Regions from separate parts of the Homo sapiens genome. Here region 1 is linked to region 2. Evidence: fine-mapped expression QTL. A gene starts in region 2. The other region holds a variant in brackets. All regions are shown on one strand. Distances are from middle to middle. Region 1 has its middle 20 kb from the start of ARPC5. Region 2 holds the start of ARPC5 (actin related protein 2/3 complex subunit 5).

Region 1 (5,372 bases), 20 kb after region 2:
TGGCTGAGCTTGGTGAGGTGTGTTTTTAAAAGACCTTTAGTCCATTCTACTTTTCTTGAAGACGGAGGACCGTAAGGGATATAAAGGTTTCACTGAATACTAAGAGCCTGAAAAACTGCTTGGCTGATTTGACTAATAAAGGCTGGTCTGTTATCAGGCTGTATAGAGGTGGGAAGGCTAAACTGAGGAATTATGTCTGACAGAAGGGAAGAAATGACTGCGGTGGCCTTCTCAGACCCTGTAGGAAAGGCCTTTACTTATTCAGTGAAAGTGTCTATTTAGACTAAGAGGTATTTTAGTCTCTTGACTCGGGCATGTTGAGTAAAGCTAATTTGCCAGTCCTGGGTGGGGGCAAATCCTCGAGCTTGATGTGTAGGGAAGGGAGGGGGCCTGAATAATCCCTGAGGAGTAGTAGAATAGCAGATGGAACACTGAGAAGTTATTTCCTTGAGGATAGATTTCCACGATGGAAAGGAAATGAGAGGTTCTAAGAGGCGGGCTAGTGGCTTGTACTATAGCATAACCTGCCTTTGCTGGTGTGCGGCGATTAGGCCTGGTGGAACTGCCATTAATAAATCAAGCATGATCAGGGTGAGGAACAGGAAAGAAGGAAATTTGGGGAAATGGGGTGAATATCAGGTGGATCAGAGAGATACAGTCATGGGGGTCAGGTGTGGTATCAGGAATAATGTGAGAGGCCAGATTGAAGTCCAGGCCAGGAAGAATGGTAATTGTGGGACTTAAAGAGTGAGTACAGCTGAAGGAGCCGGTGAGCAGAAAGTATATGCGTCAGGTATGAGGAAGAAAATAGATTTTGGAAGTTATGAGAACTGTAGAGAGTTAGTTGAGCATAGTTTGTGATTTTGAGAGCCTCTAAAAGTATTAAAGCAGTGGCAGCCGCTGCACGCAGACATGAGGGCTAGGCTAAAACAGTAAGGTCAAGTTGTTTGGACAGAAAGGCTACAGGGTGTGGTCCTGGCTCTTGTGTAAGAATTCTGACCGCGCTAACCATGCCTAGGAGGGAAAGGAGTTGTTTTGTAGAAGGTGCTGGGGTTTGAGAGATCAGTCGGATACGATTGGCAGGGAGAGCACGTGTGTTATTATGAGAATTATGCCGAGATAAGTAACAGATGAGGAAGAAATTTGGGCTTGATTAAAGTAATGGGGGCTGTCTGTGAAGCTTTGCGGCAGTACAGCCTGGGTCATTTGCTGAGCTTGATGGGTGTCAGGGTCAGTCCAAGTGAAAGCAAAGAGAGGCTGGGATTAAGGGTGCAAAGGAATAGTAAAGAAAGCATGTTTGAGATCCAGAACAGAATAATGGGTTGTAGAGGCAGGTATTGAGGATAGGAGAGTATATGGGTTTGGCACCACGGGGTGGATAGGCAAAACAATTTGGTTGATAAGGCGCAGATCCTGAACTAACTTGTAAGGCTTGTCTGGTTTTAGGACAGGTAAAATGGGGGAATTGTAAGGAGAGTTTATAGGCTTTAAAAGGCCATGCTGTAGCAGGCGAGTGATAACAGGCTTTAATCTTTTTAAAGCGTGCTGCGGGATGGGATATTGGTGTCGAGTGGGGTAAGGGTGATTAGGTTTTAATGAGATGGTAAGGGGTGCATGATCAGTCGCCAAGGAGGGAGTAGAGGTATCTTATACTTGTGGGTTAAGGTGGGGGGATACAAGAGGAGGACGCAAAGGAGGCTTTGGATTGGGAAGAAGGGCGGCAATGAGATATAGCTGTAGTCCAGGAATAGTCAGGGAAGCAGATAATTTAGTTAAGGTGTCTCAGCCTAATAAGGGAACTGGGCAGGTGGGGATAACTAAAAAGGAGTGCTTAAAAGAGTATTGTCTAAGTTGGCACCAGAGTTGGGGAGTTTTAAGAGGTTTAGAAGCCTGGCTGTCAATACCCACAACAGTTATGGAGGCAAGGGAAACAGGCCCTTGAAAAGAATGTAATGTGGAGCGGGTAGCCTCTGTATTGATTAAGAAGGGGACGGGCTTACCTTCCATTGTGAGAGTTACCTGAAGCTCGGCATCCGTGATGGTCTAGGGGGCTTCTGAGGCGATCGGGCAGTATCAGTCTTCAGCCGCTAAGCCGAGAAGATCTGGGAAGGAGTCAGTCAGAGAGCCTTGGGCCAGAGTTCCAGGGGCTCTGGGAGTGGCTGCCAGGTGAGTTGAACAGTCCGATTTTCAGTGGGGTCCTACACAGATGGGACGTGGCTTAGGAGGAATCCCGGGCTGAGGGCATTCCTTGGCCCAGTGGCCAGATTTCCGGCACGTGTAGCAAGCTCCTGGGGGAGGAGGTTCTGGAGGAAGGCCTGGCTGCTGCGGTTCAGGCGTTTGGAAGTTCTTGTGTGCTGGAGATGTGGCTGGGGTTTGTCTCACAGTGGAGGCAAGGAATTGCAACTTTTTTCTGTTATTGTACACCTTGAAGGTGAGGTTAATTAAGTCCTGTTTTGGGGTTTGAGGGCCAGATTCCAATTTTTGGAGTTTTATTTAATGTCGGGAGCAGATTGGGTAATAAAATGTATATTGAGAATAAGACGGCCTTTAGACCTTTTAGGGTCTAGGGCTGTAAAGCATCTCAGGGTTGCTGCCAAAGGAGCCATGAACTGGGCTGGATTTTTATATTTGATGAAAAAGAGCCTAAACACTTCTGATTTGGGATAAAGAAAAAGGAGCATTAACCTTGACTATGCCTTTGGCTCCAGCCACCTTTTTAAGAGTAAATTGCTGGGCAGGTGGGGGAGGGCTAGTCACGGAACGAAACTGTAAGCCAGACCAGGTGTGAGGAGGGGAGGTGACAAAAAGATTATAGGGTGGAGGAGCAGAGGCTGAGGAAGAATTGGGACCTAGCTCGGCCTGGAGAGGAGCAGCCTGGG[G/A]AGGAAGGGAGAGGTCAGATGGGTCTGTAGAAAAGGAAGATTAGAAAGACTCAGCGATGCTTGGGGTTGGTACTGAGGGGACAGGCGGGAGGGAAAGAAGGAAGATTTGGGACGAGTTGCACTGGGCACAGAGACTAGGAAGGGACTGATGTGTAAAAGAATGCCTGGACGTCAGGCACCTCAGACCATTTGCCTATTTTACAACAAGAATTATTTAGATCTTGCAAGATGGAAAAATTCAAAGTGCCATTTTCTGGTTATTTGGAACTACTGTCGAGTTTGTATTGGGGTCAAGCGGCATAGCAGAAGAAAATAAGGCATTTAGGTTTTAGGTCAGGTGTGAGTTGAAGAGGTTTTAAGTTTTGAGAACACAGGCTAAGGGAGAGAAGAAGGAGGAATGGAGGGTGGAAGGTTGCCCATAGTGAAGGAGACAAACCCAGAGGAAAGAGAGCGTAGAAACATGGAGGGAAGGGGTTCGGGGGTTCTTGCCCTCCCGAAAAGTGGGAAGGGGGTCGGGTCACGGAAATAAGGGATTGGGGCACAGAGATAAGAGGTTGGGGTGTGGAAATAAGGGATTGGGGGTTCTTGCCCCCTAGAAAAGTGGGACTTGTTGCTAAGGGTGAAGGAGAAGGGGTTGAGGGGAACTTGCCCCTCTCCCAGAAAAGCAGAGAAGGGGTAGAGACAAGGAGAGAAGGGGTTGGGGTACTTGCCCCTTCCCCAGAAAAGCAGAGAAGGGGTAGAGACAAGGACAGAAGGGGTTGGGGAACTTGCCCCTTCCCCAGAAAAGCAGAGAAGGGGTAGAGACAAGGACAGAAGAGGTTGGGGTACTTGCCCCTCCCCCAGAAAAGCAGAGAAGGGGTAGAGACAAGGACAGAAGGGGTTGGGGTACTTGCCCCTTCCCCAGAAAAGCAGAGAAGGGGTAGAGACAATGAGAGAAGGGGTTGGGGTACTTGCCCCTTCCCCAGAAAAGCAGAGAAGGGGTAGAGACAAGGACAGAAGGGGTTGGGGAACTTGCCCCTTCCCCAGAAAAGCAGAGAAGGGATAGAGACAAGGACAGAAGGGGTTGGGGTACTTGCCCCTTCCCCAGAAAAGCAGAGAAGGGGTAGAGACAAGGACAGAAGGGGTTGGGGTACTTGCCCCTTCCCCAGAAAAGCAGAGAAGGGATAGAGACAAGGAAAGAAGGGGTTGGGGTACTTGCCCCTTCCTCAGAAAAGCGGGACTTGCCGCTAAGGGTGAAGGACCAAGGCAGGTGTCCCTGCGTGGTCTGACACCTTTGAAACATGGGTGAATGATCAGAGAGGTGTGCCTGCAATGATTAAACACCAAGGGAAGGCTGCCTTCCCAGTCCGTGACTGGCGCCGGAGTTTTGGGTCTACGGATAAAACATGTCTCCTTTGTCTCTACTGGAAAATGAAAGGAATTGAAATTAAGAGAAGGGAGAGATTGAAGTGTGGCGCCAAGATTGAAAGGAGAAAGAGGTTGAGGGATAGTGAGGGAGGTTGGAGAAGAGAGTAAAAAGAGGCCGCTTACCGGATTTGAAATTGGTGAGATGTTTCTTGGGCTGGTCGGTCTGAGGACCTGAGGTCGTAGGTGGATCTTTCTCATGGAGCAAAGAGCAGGAGGACGGGGGATTGATCTCCCAAGGGAGGTCCCCCGATCCGAGTCACGGCACCAAATTTCACACGTGTCTGTGTGAAGAGACCACCAAACAGGCTTTGTGTGAGCAATAAAGCTGTTTATTTCACCTGGGTGCAGGTGGGCTGAGTCCAAAAAGAGAGTCAGTGAAGGGAAATAAGGGTGGGGCCGTTTTATAGGATTTGGGAAGGTAATGGAAAATTACAGTCAAAGGGGGTTGTTCTCTGGTGGGCAGGGGCAGGGGTCACAAGGTGCTCAGTTGGGGAGCTTCTGAGCCAGGAGAAGGAAATTCACAGGGTTAATCACTCAGTTAAGGTGGGGCAGGAACAAATCACAATGGTGGAATGTCATCAGTTAAGGCGGGGCAGGGCCTTTTCACTTATTTTGTGATTCTTCAGTTACTTCAGGCCATCTGGGCGTATATGTGCAAGTCACAGGGGATGCGATGGCTTGGCTTGGGCTCAGAGGCCTGACACCAGGGAAGGCTTCTGATTGATCCAGCTTGAGTCTAGACTCAACCTCTAGATCAGTCAACTGAGACCTAGTCTGGATCACATTTTACTAATATAGTGACTTTCACTGTAACTCTGTAGATGGAGTGTAAGGACCAAAAGGTCTCAGAAATGAGATTCTTATTACACAAAATAATAAATGTGTGTTTCATACATAGGTTGTGCTAGGTTAGGGTCCATGGATTATTTATCTTTGGTCACTTTATGAAACCTTGTGCATAATTGGGGTCCCTTATATTTATTGAAGTATTAGGCAGCTTTTGGTGAATAAATGAATATAGGTATTATTGCCCCATTTTAATGAGGTTAACTTAGAGAAGTATATTGCCTAGAAAAAATACATGTT
Region 2 (5,372 bases):
CTAAAGTTAGCAAAGACTGAAACTGAAAAAAAATTGTAAAATCTTTATTCTAAGTTATATAACGCCATTCACCATAGTAATGATTTTATACTTTGGTATATGGCTTTTTAAAATAAATATTGCCAACAGGTAAAAATTTTTCCTTTGCTGTCTTAAGGCATTCCTAAGAGAATTTTTACCAGTGTGTGTTCATAACTTGAATGTTAATTTAAACAATGTTACTTCTATCACCTAAATGATATACTTATAGAAGAGTGGTTTAATTGGGAACAGAAAAACACCACATTGCTTCTTCCCAAGAAAAAGGGATGTATTCCATTCTCGAGGTCTCTCTCCCACTCTCTATTTATATATAATATACTGCATAGATAAATATACACACATTATATATGTATTTTTTTGAACTTAAAGAAGACTGGACATATGTATTTACATGTATATATCCAACAAATATTTAATTTTGAGATCTCTCTCCCTCTTCTGATTTATTATTCTCAGTATGATTCTCAAACTGTACGGTCTTTCACATTTCATTCATTCATCAAGCATGTATCGAGTCCCTTCTGCATGCTTAGCTTTTTGTCATATGGAAGGAAGATACAAAAGAAAAACTGTTTCTGCCCTTCAGAATCTTTCCATCTCTTCTAGGAAGGAGATAAAACACCATATATCATTAAGAAATTTATAAGACTAGTCCCAAAACCAATGGTACAAGCAACATGCATTTTACATTTATGTAGAATTTTAGAGCTTGGAAACACTTTCGTGATATATAATCCTAAGAACAATCTTGTAAAGTGCACATTATTAGCTCCATTTCAGTGATGAGGAATCTGAGACAGAATTTTAAGTGACATGTCTCGTTCAAACATTATGAGTGGAAGAGTCAACACTTAAGCCTGAGTTTTCTGATTCTAAGCCTAGTGCTCTTTTCAACACAGCACTGGAAACCAAAGATTGTGGTACACAACAGGGCAACAGCCAGTCTTCTGCTCGAGGTCCAACTAAACTGGACCCATACCGAGCAGTGTCCAGCCAAATGTCCAAATTAATTTTATCCTGCAAATATTTGTTCTTCAGTGTAATACACACAGCACAACTACCATTTCCTTCGTCTTAGTGCCTTTATCTCCTACATTCCAGAAATGGGGATGTCAAATATTTTTTTAAATCTGGCCTAGATGGAATCATATAAATCTCAAATCATAATATAAATCTTAAAGGTCTGGTTTCCACCAATCCTTCCACATTTTGTTTTCCCCCAGCACTAGAGAGCCTAACCTACCCTCACCCCTTTCGAGCATTCTTGCTCCAAACGACCACCTATTTTAAGATGTCAATGACCCTTTCCCAAATTCTACAAATTCACCCCAGTTTTGCCACCCGACCCCAGCGCCTGCCCGGACACGTTCCCCTCCCTCCCAATAGATTTGATACCGAGTTCAGGTTCTGCAGATCCCGTTGCGATGCTGTCACACAGCACTGACAGATAAGATTTGACCTTTCGACTCCGTCCTTGGGGACTTCCCGCTGGCCAAGAAGGGTAGTTCCAATCCCAGGAAACGGGCTTCCTGCTCAGGAACGCAGCCTCTAGCAGCGCACAGTCTGAGGCAATGTCTCCGGCAATTAGAACGATGCTGGGCGCCCGGGTGTGCATCACTCTGCCTCATACTCCTACCAACTGCAGGGCACTCGGTCCGGCAGCCAGTCCATCCCACCCACAGCCAAGTCCCAGCCAGCCGGACCTTACGCAGGACCCCGATGATAGGTCGTTGACGGCTGCAGCAAAAGCCAAGGCCACCTGCCGCTGCTGCCCATCCCCGCCAATCTGAGACCCCCTAGACTGGACCGCAGAAAAGCGTTTCTATGGGAACCCCCCCACCGAGAATCACGTGACGCAATCGGACGACCAATCGCTTCTTACCTCTGCCCGCGGTCCAGCTTTTGGCCCTCCCTCTCGCCCCCGCCTCCTTCGCCCAGCCCCGCCCCTTGCCTGCGGAGAGCCCGCGCCTGCGCGCTGTGTCCTGCGCGCTCCTTCCCTCGCGCGCGCTCTCCGTGGAAGAGCAGGGGCAGCGTGGGAGGCGCCAAGGGAGCGCGAACCTGAGGAGGAAGAAACGGGGCTAGCGCGCAGGCCCAGAACGGTCCGAGCCGCGGCAGTCGGCGACGCCTCAGAGCGGAAGAGGGAAGTGAATCAGGCGCCGGGTAGTGGGTTGCTGGGCTGGGCTTGCTGAGGTAGAGGCAGCGCCAAGAAGAGGCCTTTGCCGCTGGTCGGGATTGGGATGTCGAAGAACACAGTGTCGTCGGCCCGCTTCCGGAAGGTGGACGTGGATGAATATGACGAGAACAAGTTCGTGGACGAAGAAGATGGGGGCGACGGCCAGGCCGGGCCCGACGAGGGCGAGGTGGACTCCTGCCTGCGGCAATATCCTTGCATTCACCGCCCTCCCCACCCCAGCCCAGCCCAGCCCGCCCTTCTCCTGGGACCCGGGAGCCTGCAGGATCCGCGGGGCACCGGCGCGGAGCTGCCCTCTCAACCTGCGGCTTAACCTGTCTCTTTGGGATCGCCCGCTCTGAGAGGGCAAGGGGGAAGCCCCCGTTTCCTACCCAGTCGGCAGGAGACGCGAGGGTCCCACTCTTGGAAGCCTGCCCTCCCCCGCGCGCCTTCCACGCCCCCAGATTCCTCAGGTTGCACCCGAGTGCCTGCCTGCCTCGGGAACTGGTCCCGCCGGCCGCGCCCTCGCGGCGCTGGGGAAGGCGGCCCCGGCTGGTGGGGAAGGCTGGTGCCGAGCGCCTTAGTTTTTCTTCCTAGAACTCTGATTTCCTGGGGTCACATTAGCTCCAGAAATTTCTGATTGTGGGGAACCTGCATCTTTCCTTAGTGGTTTTGTTTTTTGTTGTGTTTTTGTTATTGGTAGCGTTAAGGTAGTTTATTCCTTACCGGGGGGCGGGGGGAGATGGGACTGTTCGAAAATTGAGGGTCCCTGTGCTTTCAGCCCATTGGCCTTTTTAAAAAAAAAAAAAAAAGAAGAAGAAGAAGGGGATTTGGCAAAATATACATTGTACAGAATTTGTTAACTGGGGGAGGGGAATGAATACAAAAAATACAAAACTCCTAGAAGGAAGCTTGGAGCCTTTTACCTGCTAAGAAAAGGACAATAGAAAAAACAACGGGGAATGCGTGTGGAGAATCCTTGGAAATATTTAAAATAAACCCCAATGAATAAGATAGAAGATGAGTCATTCGTATAAAGCAGAATCATTTTTGTAATCCTAAAATTGTTTCCATTTTAGTTAAAATATGGCAGTCAGTTCCCGGTTTCTGTTTTTGCATATTTGAATATTCATAACTTTGGCTTCGCATTTGCATTACATCTTTTTTAGAAAAATGTAAATGTTGCAAAAAAACCGAAGCTGTAGTTTTAGAAAATCTCAGACACTGAATTTGTATGCATTTCTAATTCTTGGGTGTATTCATAAGGAAGACTCTCAACAATGTCCTGTTATAGTGGGGAAATATGAGAGTGAAAATATTTAATGGCAACAATATCCTTTTTTAAAGGCACCTAAATAGAGCATTAGACATTTATCAATATATAGATAGTGCTTTGCCACAACTTTCACAATTAATTAGCTGTTGCTCTTTTGCATTATTTAAATACTTAAGTGCTTGGAGTTATAAAAAATGAGCTAATCTACATCAGGCATGCTTCTCTAGAAATCCCTGCAGCCTTGAAAATAACAGCTTGTCAACCAGAGATTTTGTGTAAGAACTTTTTCTTTAGAAAATAAATGGTGAACATGCTTCCTAAAAACATTATTTGTGATGGATAGATGGTGTTTTATGAAACCCCAGTGTATTTTAGGTAATTTGTGGTGACTTTTAAATGGTACTGCTGTATCCATATCAGTGGATCTGCTTTTTGATCAGTTCATCTTAAAATATAAAGATACTGTCTCTTCTTACCGTTACATACAGCCAGGAAAGACAGCCCTAGTGGTGGGGTACTAGAGTTGGAGGAACAAGTGAACTCTGTGGTTTTCCTTTTAGGGGAATGTTTGTACATTCTGACAGTCTGATTGGCCTTCTGTTTCTCATGCTTGCTAACTCACTAGTGCTTTCAAAGAGAGCCTGAATTTAATAGGTATGGTCTAACACAGTTTGAATAACCTTTGTGAAATATGAGAGAAAATATCTAAAGCAAAAAATTAAGCTGCCACCTAAGGGACATATGAATTATTACATCTTCTGTGATGCCTCTTTTCATCAATATTGAGAGATTGCTAATGTGTATCATTCAGATTGCTAATCTGCCAGCATGTTCTACCAGCATTTCAGATAATACAGAATATGGTTCTAGCAAAAGTTTGGTCTTTATTTTTTCAATTAGAATCACAGGAAAAGACATATTTTGGTTGATAATAGGTTATTTCATTTGGGGGACTAATAATTCTGATATATATTTTAGGATTTCTTTAACACCACTCTAGGTAATGTTTGCATATGTATCTCACTGGGAAATGAAAGACTATCAAGGTGTTCACTTGATAGTTAGAACCAAGGGTGAAACAGTCTTTGCTTTATTAAAAAAAAGTCTAATGTTCTATTTTGCTTTTGATATTTTGCCTTTGATTAACATCCTGGAAACCAACACATTGAATTTCCAGTATTGAACATAGTGACCAAAGTAATTTTCTTTTTATATGTAAATCAAGTCATAAGAACCAGTGGTTATAATGCTTTCCTGGGGGCCATCCTTTGCTGTTACACCCTTAACTTCCATCACAGGAAACATGACAGCTGCCCTACAGGCAGCTCTGAAGAACCCCCCTATCAACACCAAGAGTCAGGCAGTGAAGGTGAGTCGCAGACTACAACACAGTGATCTCTGCTGATATCTTATTCTTAGTAAAATCCTCTGCAGTTGCAAAAAAAAATCAATATTTTAACTGTTTGCTATCTTTGACATAGAAGAGTTTATAATGTAGTTTGATAGGTAAAAATTTCACGTGAAAAAATAGCCCTATAATGTAGTTATGATAATGCTGCATGGTAAGATACAGTAAGTTCAAACGATAGTGAAATCATTTGTGTGTGTTTTTAGAGGAGACCACTCAGGCTGAATTTGAGCAAAGGTTTGAAAAATAAGTTAAACCTTTACAAAAATAAACAGATTGTAATTGCTTTTTAAAGATTTTTTAAAACCATACAAATACTAAATACTTATTATAGAAAGCTCAGACATATGAGAAGGTTAAAAAGATAGTGGTTTGTGGTCCCAGCACCCAGAGATAACAGTTACTACTTTGGGGCCTTGCTGTATTGTTACAGAGTTCCCTTTTGTTTTTTTAAGAATGAAATTTTATAACGTGCT

Evidence for each region. PIP is the estimated chance that this variant, and not a neighbour inherited with it, causes the effect. A credible set is the group of variants that fine-mapping cannot tell apart.
Region 1: its variant is the best candidate, but not a certain one, in a credible set for the expression of ARPC5 in T cells (TOPMed, PIP 0.68).

The regions. Positions count from the first base shown.
Region 1 is chr1:183,612,827-183,618,198 of GRCh38, reverse strand. No RefSeq gene overlaps it. Among named protein-coding and RNA genes, the nearest start is that of ARPC5, 20 kb to the left of the region's middle. The variant G/A (reference allele first, on the strand shown) is at 2,880.
Region 2 is chr1:183,632,567-183,637,938 of GRCh38, reverse strand. ARPC5 (actin related protein 2/3 complex subunit 5) reads left to right here and starts at 2,156. Exons shown (of 4, transcript NM_005717.4): 1 at 2,156-2,422; 2 at 4,785-4,857. The coding sequence starts at 2,280. It also overlaps a transcript of RGL1 not described here. RefSeq lists silencers at 1,873-2,032, 2,513-2,562, 2,643-2,702, 2,654-2,872 and enhancers at 2,183-2,462, 2,460-2,960.